2 linked regions of the Homo sapiens genome follow. The protein of the gene in region 1 purifies or fractionates together with the protein of each later gene. This does not show direct contact. Each region holds a gene or a part of one and is shown in the gene's direction. Other genes may lie near its edges.

Region 1 (3,958 bases):
GCGATACCTTAGCTCAAAAAACAACCCAAACAAACCTGGGAATGGACTGAACAGTCTCCATTTCAAGATTTCCTCCTTCCATTGGAATTAACCTGTTGGTTGCTTGTACTGGCATGTGGCAACCAGTCTTAGCCCAGTTTTAATAGATCCCTGTTTGGTGTTACTCAACAGAGAAGACCACTCGGCCCTCAGCCACCGAATAAGTTTAAGAAACAGAGGTGTGGCATGCTTCATTCTACAGGTAGGGAGGCTGAGGCTGGGGAGCCGCCCCTGGCTATCCCTGGAAACCCCTCTACCCCACAGGAATCGTCCCAGCCATCTCTTTAGCGTAAAGGTGAGGAACAAATCTCAGCCACGATCCAAAGAGGGGCGCCACCCCTGGCTGTCCCTGGAAACCCCCCTACACCACAAGAATCGTCCCAGCCACCTCTTTAGCGTAAAGGTTAGGAAGAAATCTCAGCCACGATCCAAAGAAAGCTTGGTATTTTTAGCACCAAGGCCAGAAGGAGCGTGTCCTTACTCCTTGGTTTACAAAGAAATAAAAACCTTTTCCCCATCCTTCTTTTGATTGAAGACTACCCCCGCCCCCAGGCTCCAAAGCCGGGCAGGAACGCCTCTTATCTCCACCACAGCCATTTTCCTAATCCTTCGCCCGCTCTCCACGGTCATCCCGTGTATCCCTCGAGACGCCGCCTCCCACAGCTCGTGCTTCTCCCAGGTTCGGCTCCGACAAGGCCAGAGCGGCGTCTGCGCAGCGCAACGGCTCAGAGCGCTCCCGGCGGCTACAAGTGCCCGGCCCCGGGCCAGGCCCGGCCTGCGCCGCGCACCCACTGGGAGGGCGCGGACCGGGGCCGCCCCAAGCCTCCGGCACCGCCCAGAGCGGGACAAAGGGGCGGGCCGGCGACCCGGCCTCGCGGTCCCCGGTGCCGCGCGGGCCGGGAGGCGGGGTGCGGTGGGGGAGGGGCGAGGCGGCTGGGGGAGGGGCGGGGCCAGGGCGGGCCCAGGCGCCCGGGGCCGCACCGGGCGGCGCAGGGAAGCGGCGCCCCTTCCTCGGCAGACGGCAGGCGCCGCGCCTCCGGCCCCGCCCCTCCGCGCCCCTCCGCGCCCCGCCCCCGCCGCTCGGACGGCCCGAGTCGCGCCCTCCCGCCCCGCGCCGCGGAACTTGCTCTAACTTCCTCGGCCGAGCCGGGCCGCGCCGCCGCTGCCGCCGCCGCGCGCGGGTGAGTAGAGCGCGGAGACCTGGCTGGGGCGTCGGGCCCTGCCCCTTTCTTTGTCTGAGGCCGACTTCCCCGAGCGTTCTCCGGGGGCGAGGGCTGCTCCTTAGGTCCCTGTTTGGCCCCTCAGCCTCCCTCCCCGCCTGCCCAGGAGCGGCCCCGCGGGCGGCGCTGGCTTTGTCTGCCAGGATTGCTCGCTAGAGGTTGGAGGCCTCCGCCGGGACCCCGCTGAGCCGAACTCCGGCGCCGCGCGGACGAGAGCCGCGGCGGGCCCGGGGCCGGCACTCCTGGTTCGGTAGCCCTCGCCCCATCAGCGCGCCCCGGCGAGTGCGCGCCCGTGCCGGGCGGGGTGAGGGCGACGGGAGCCTGGACGGCCGCTGCTGCTCGGGGCTCTGCTTCTCGTCCCCAGCAGCGAGCTCGGGGATGGGCCACCCTTTCGGCTCAGTCACCCACCCTCGGCTCCCAGGAGATCGGGTCCGGGGTGGGGGTGGGCGTAGGCCGGGGCGGGCCGCCCCTTCCTCCTGCCCCGCCGTGGTTGTGCTCAGTCTCCCACGCCGCCGTGGGTCCCACTCTGCCCGGCTTGGGTTTGGGACGGCCGGAGTTTGAGTAGGCGGTGACCCAGCTTCTCCGCGTTAGTCGTGTGGGGTTGTGTTTGGGAGCAAAGCCTGACCCCTGACCTAGCCGGAGTTCTGGTAGAGTGAGGTTTGTGGCTGCGGACTGTGCTTGTCCCGGGCCGCTGCTGCTTCTCCTCCACCCCCAGGGGTGGGGTGCGGGTGGGTAGGAAGTGCCTGTGTGAGGGTGTGTGGAGGGACTTTGGCCCTGGGACCGCAGGAGCACTTGTCTTGGGGACTTAAAGTTGATCTCCGGCGAGAAACAGTCCGTGCTAGGGGGAGTCGGGGGAAGTCGTGGGCCCGGGTACTGGCCTGGGGCTGGGCGCAGAGCGGTGGTGAGTGCGGCGGTGTCACACACTCGTTGGCTGTGCTGGCGCTGCTATCCGGGAGGTCAGGCGGTGCTGGGCGGCTGTGCAGAGCATTGTATTGGAGCCTCTGCAGGTGTGCTCTTGGCAGTGGTCTGCTCTCCAGGGGATCTTCCTCCCTTCCGAGAGGGAGTTGCTCTTGGGCTAGTGAGAGAGTGGCCTGCCAAATCCTCAAAAGTAGCCTTCCCCTTGCCCCTTGACCTTGAAGTCCAGAAGCAGTTAGTGCCTGCTGAGTGCTCCGGCCACCCTTCTCTATTTGTGAAGGGAAACCTGGGGACAGGCCATCGGAGCACCCCTATGTCCTTGCCACATTTCAGCTAGCCGAGTGGTTGGTGGGGGCGGCCGTCTTTCCAGGGATCTTCCTGGGCCCTGGCACCCCCAGAATGAAGCCCAGACTCCACCATAATGGCCCTGTATGCCCTTCTATCCCCTTAGCTGCTGGTGTGATCATAGCCTCAAATTGCTGGGCTCAAGTGATCCTCCCACCTCAGCCTCCCAAAGCACAGGGATTACAGGTGTGAGCCACCACGCGCAGTCTGATCCCACTCCGATCCCTAACGTTATAGTGACAGGCCCTGGAAACCCAGGGCCACCAGATGTATTTTCCCTTTCCTTCTCATTGTGTTGCACCCCAACTTCAGTTGGAGACTCTGGATATATCCATCCCCACATCTCTGAACTCCACTGCTTGGGCCACCTAATGTCATCCTCAGTTTAGTTAACAAAGCATGGTTGAGATTTCTGTGGGGTGCGAGGCATTGTTGCAGGCACTATTCCAAGTCTGGAAAGTCCCTCACCAGCTATGAACTTGGTGTGGTCTTAGAACCCAGGCTGGACATGGCATAGGTGCTCAGTAGTGTTTATTGATCTGAGCTTGATCTCAGCGTAGCAGGATCATTTAGGGAGACGGGGTTGTGGGGGGGGTCTGAGCCCATGGGTGCTTCTGAAGGTTTGTGGCTGCCCCAGGAAGAAAGGGCATGGAGCTGCAGAATGGTTGGCTGCCCAGGGAATTGTCCCCTTCACCAGCTGGGCAGCTGTGCTAGTCTCTGAGGACTGGTGAAGGTCCTTCTCATGTAGGAAGTGGCAGTATGAAGTGGGAGAGGAGATGGCTCTGCCCTGAAGGTTGTGGCGGCAGTGAAGTGAAGTTCCCATGGAGGCCGGGGAGCAGGAAAGCCCTGGGTTCTGGAACTATTTCCTGAGGCCTCACTCTATGCCACCATGTGCTCAGGAATTTGACCCATTTAACTTCAACTGAGGTAGAATTCCTTTTAGCAGTGCCTGCAAAGTGGCATTGTGCCAGGCCTGGGAAACCTTTGCTGGCTTAAAATTTAGTGAAGGACAAGATTATTTCATAGTGATACTAATGTGAGTTTATTGAGACTTACACCCTAGAAGTTTGACTTGTAATAACTCATTTAATCCTTGAAAACAGCTGTGATGGCTGGGCGTGATGGCTCATGCCTGTAATCCCAGCACTTTGGGAGGCCGAGGTGGGTGGATCACCTGAGGTCAGGAGTTCAAGACCAGCCTGACCAACACGGTGAAACCCTGTCTCTACGAAAAATACAAAATTAGCTGGGCGTGGTGGCACATGCCTATAATCCCAGCTACTTGGGAGGCTGAGGCAGGAGAATTGCTTCAATCTGGGAGGTGGAGGTTGCAGTGAGCTGAGATCGCGCCGTTGCACTCCAGCCTGGGCAACAAGAATGAAACTCCATCTCAAAAAACAAAAAACAAAAAGCAAAACAACCGTGATGTCAACAGCTCC
Region 2 (3,500 bases), on another chromosome or scaffold:
ACTTCCATTTGTATATGTTTCTCTACAAGCTACAAATGGAACATTAAATATGTCCTCAGAATTAATATGGAGTTACAATAGATTGTGTTTAAAGAAGCTAGTTTCATGTTTCTATTTTAAACCAGAGGTTCTCATATTAACTTCATATTTTGATAGCAAGTCTTTATTTAATTTTATCTGCCACAGAAAATATGCTTATTCAGCAGCTTCTGGTGGGCGACGAAGTGCTACGAAAGTAATGGTAGTTGTAACTGACGGTGAATCACATGATGGTTCAATGTTGAAAGCTGTGATTGATCAATGCAACCATGACAATATACTGAGGTTTGGCATAGCAGTAAGTGGCTTTTCTTTTCACTTGTCTTGCCGCTATTGGGTAAATCTTTCTTTATAGCATCACTTCTCAAGGCTGCACTTTCCCATTGGCTGTTCATAGTTGAATATAAAAGAAAGTTCTTACTCTATCTCTGCTTCTTGATGATTTTCAATCCTGTCTACTAAATAAAGGGTTATGGAAATGTTGCTTGATTTACTTTTCCAGAGGGAATATTGTGTTCAAAATAGGCTAGAATGTACTCATAGGGAAAATGTACAGCAGTAATGACTGCACATTCTCTTCCTCTATTTTCAAGGTTCTTGGGTACTTAAACAGAAACGCCCTTGATACTAAAAATTTAATAAAAGAAATAAAAGCAATCGCTAGTATTCCAACAGAAAGATACTTTTTCAATGTGTCTGATGAAGCAGCTCTACTAGAAAAGGCTGGGACATTAGGAGAACAAATTTTCAGCATTGAAGGTAAAAAAAATAACCTCCTTTCAAGAATTTTCTTCAAAATGTTTAAATAATTGTTTATTATCACATATTTGCTTTACTAATGTTAACTTGTATACCATGTATAAAAAGAGCTACTACAATCAGTAAGAGAAATGGATGAAAAACATGAATAAATAGTTTATAAATGATAAAATACAAATGACTGATAAACATAAGAAAATATTCCCAATTTACAAAGTATATTTCTAAATACTTTCAGTAAGTATTTAAAAACATAAATTAAACCGACAATATGTTTTGCCTAAAAGATGACACAGAATAATAATGTTTAATCCTGGAGAGATTATCAGGAAGCAAAGAAGCTCATACACTGTTGATAGGATGATAAATTGTTATGACTTTTGGGGGACAATGTATGAATATCTATCTATTAGAATCATAAATAGTTTTACCTTTTTACACTGTGTTATGTAAGTTCTAAAATTCTTGAATTTGTTTACAGTAAGCATATATATTTTTAAAATTAGAAAAATACAGCAAAGATTTTTAATAGTTCAGTTTTTGAGGAAGCATTTTATTTATAGGACCTAAAATAATTTACTTAGGTGGCCTTGGAAAATCTAGTTAGTGCAGAAAGATCACGTGTTCAGGAGCTCACTGTGTGGGGGACTAGCACACACTTCACAGTTGGTTAAAAGAAAAAAAAAACACACATCACCCAAATCCTAGTTCTTGATGGTTAACCCGAATAACTCTTTGCAATAAAGACCATATGTTATTGGAAACCTATGTATCAGGTACAGCCTTAGAGTCTGGGGCTAAAGGAATTGCATAAATTATTCATTCATATACTCAAATCTTGATTTGATTATCCATTGGAATTACCCAAAAAGCATTATTGCTTCTTCAGTATCCCATGGTGCTTCAAAGTTGTTTAAATAACCATTTAAATCCAGCATACCCTGAGATAACACAAAATCACTAGGCTATCCACACTGATAATTGTATTTGTTTGTAGTGGAATGAATGAGAACAATTGCAATCTACAAGCTAGCTAGAAATGATTTTGAGCATTATTTGCTATTATGGACTTTGGGGAACATTATTCTATTTTATTAAAAAGTATCTCTACTCATCCTGTGTAAATTATTTTATCTTCTAAATAAGACTATGTTGTACAGTACAGTTTGTCTTCTTTTCTATATTAAAGTGTGAGTCCAGTAATTTAGCTTCCTTTTGTGAAGATTAGTGAAACGTAGCCATTTTGATCACACTGTATGGAAAATAAGTACCAATTGCATCTTACAGTGTTAGTGACACAGGCAAGCACATATACAGAACCAGAACAAACTTCCCAATTGGTAAAATTCCTACTCAGTCTTGAATTCTGATTCCTAATAGCTAACTCAGTTATCTCCCAGCAGTCTTCACTACAGATCAATTGCCCAGCCCTTCCAACTGCATCTGAGATATGTGTACATTATCAGTACCCATATTTCAAAGCTAAAAATTCAGTTAGTTTCTTAGCTAGTAATGATCAAGTTTTTAAAAAATTATCATCTCAGTTTTCACCTTACCTTATACCCTTTGTTGAGTGTCCTTTGGTATCAAGAACGTCATACATATTCTGCTAAATACATTAATGTTCAATTAAAGTTAATGCCAACTTTGAACACTACCTTGGAAGTGTTGTTATTTCCATAACCTGCTAGAACACTTTCTTAGTAATTTCTTCTTCCCAGAATATGCAAGCTCTGTATTTTTGGGTGAGTATTGGAACAGTGTGTGTTTGTGTTTGTGTTTGTAGGCATGTGTGTACATACGTGCCTGCTTGTGTTTGAAAACTTGATTTAAAATTACTGACAGTAATACAATTTTTAAAATTGAATGTTCCAGGTACTGTTCAAGGAGGAGACAACTTTCAGATGGAAATGTCACAAGTGGGATTCAGTGCAGATTACTCTTCTCAAAATGTGCGTATATCAGATAGCTTCAAGCCATGTTGTCATTTGGCATAACACTTCCAGACACAGTAGCCTTATACATAAAATGGGAAGACAGCCATCTAGGGATCAGCCCTTCTGATTCCTAGTCACGGTCATTTAGTTTCTTTGTGCTGCTGATTTACCTCTAAAATTTGAAGGATAATAATGTCTTCCCTTCCCTGTTTCACAGGGATCTTATATGGGGGAAAACTGATAGTATACCAGAAAGTCTTTGAGTACCCCAGGGCACAGACTGTATATTAACTTAAGGTATTATTCCTGCAGGAATTTTCTTTGAATCAATTAACTACTGGAAATGTTTGTTAAAAACACGTACTCTTGTCATCACCGTCATGGTCGAATTCTGAATGGTCATAGTATCTTTTTCTAAGAGCAGACAGAAAAGAGTTGAAAAAATAAGGAGGTAGGAAAAACGTGAGGTGGAATTGGAATACAACACTGTCTTTTCAGCTCGGGGAAGTCTATTTCTATCTCTCAGAAACATCCACCTCCTGGGCCCCTGATTCTAATTTGAGTCAGGAGGTGAGAGAGATAGTGAAAGGAGGCGAAAAAAAAAAGAAAGAGATCCTGGGAATTATTTAAGGAACAGTAGGAAATCCCAGGATTTGATCGGCAGGTCAGAGGACCAAGAACAGCTTGTTTTCTATCTAGAATCAAAGGAACTGACTTTTTCTGGATCATCAATCCTTAGAGATGCTCATAGAAGTTATGGATCTT

What was found. The genes of interacting proteins can lie anywhere in the genome.
Region 2: the proteins of TSPAN14 (region 1) and ITGA2 purify together in Homo sapiens (co-immunoprecipitation; one large-scale study listed by IntAct). This does not show direct contact.

What each region holds. Positions count from the first base shown.
Region 1 is NC_000010.11:80,453,152-80,457,109, forward strand, and holds the start of TSPAN14 (tetraspanin-14), read left to right. Parts: upstream 1-1,158; 5' UTR 1,159-1,220; intron 1,221-3,958. UniProt on the Homo sapiens protein: Part of TspanC8 subgroup, composed of 6 members that interact with the transmembrane metalloprotease ADAM10.
Region 2 is NC_000005.10:53,055,352-53,058,851, forward strand, and holds part of ITGA2 (integrin alpha-2 precursor), read left to right. Parts: intron 1-186; coding exon 187-337; intron 338-632; coding exon 633-798; intron 799-2,673; coding exon 2,674-2,750; intron 2,751-3,500. UniProt on the Homo sapiens protein: Integrin alpha-2/beta-1 is a receptor for laminin, collagen, collagen C-propeptides, fibronectin and E-cadherin. It recognizes the proline-hydroxylated sequence G-F-P-G-E-R in collagen.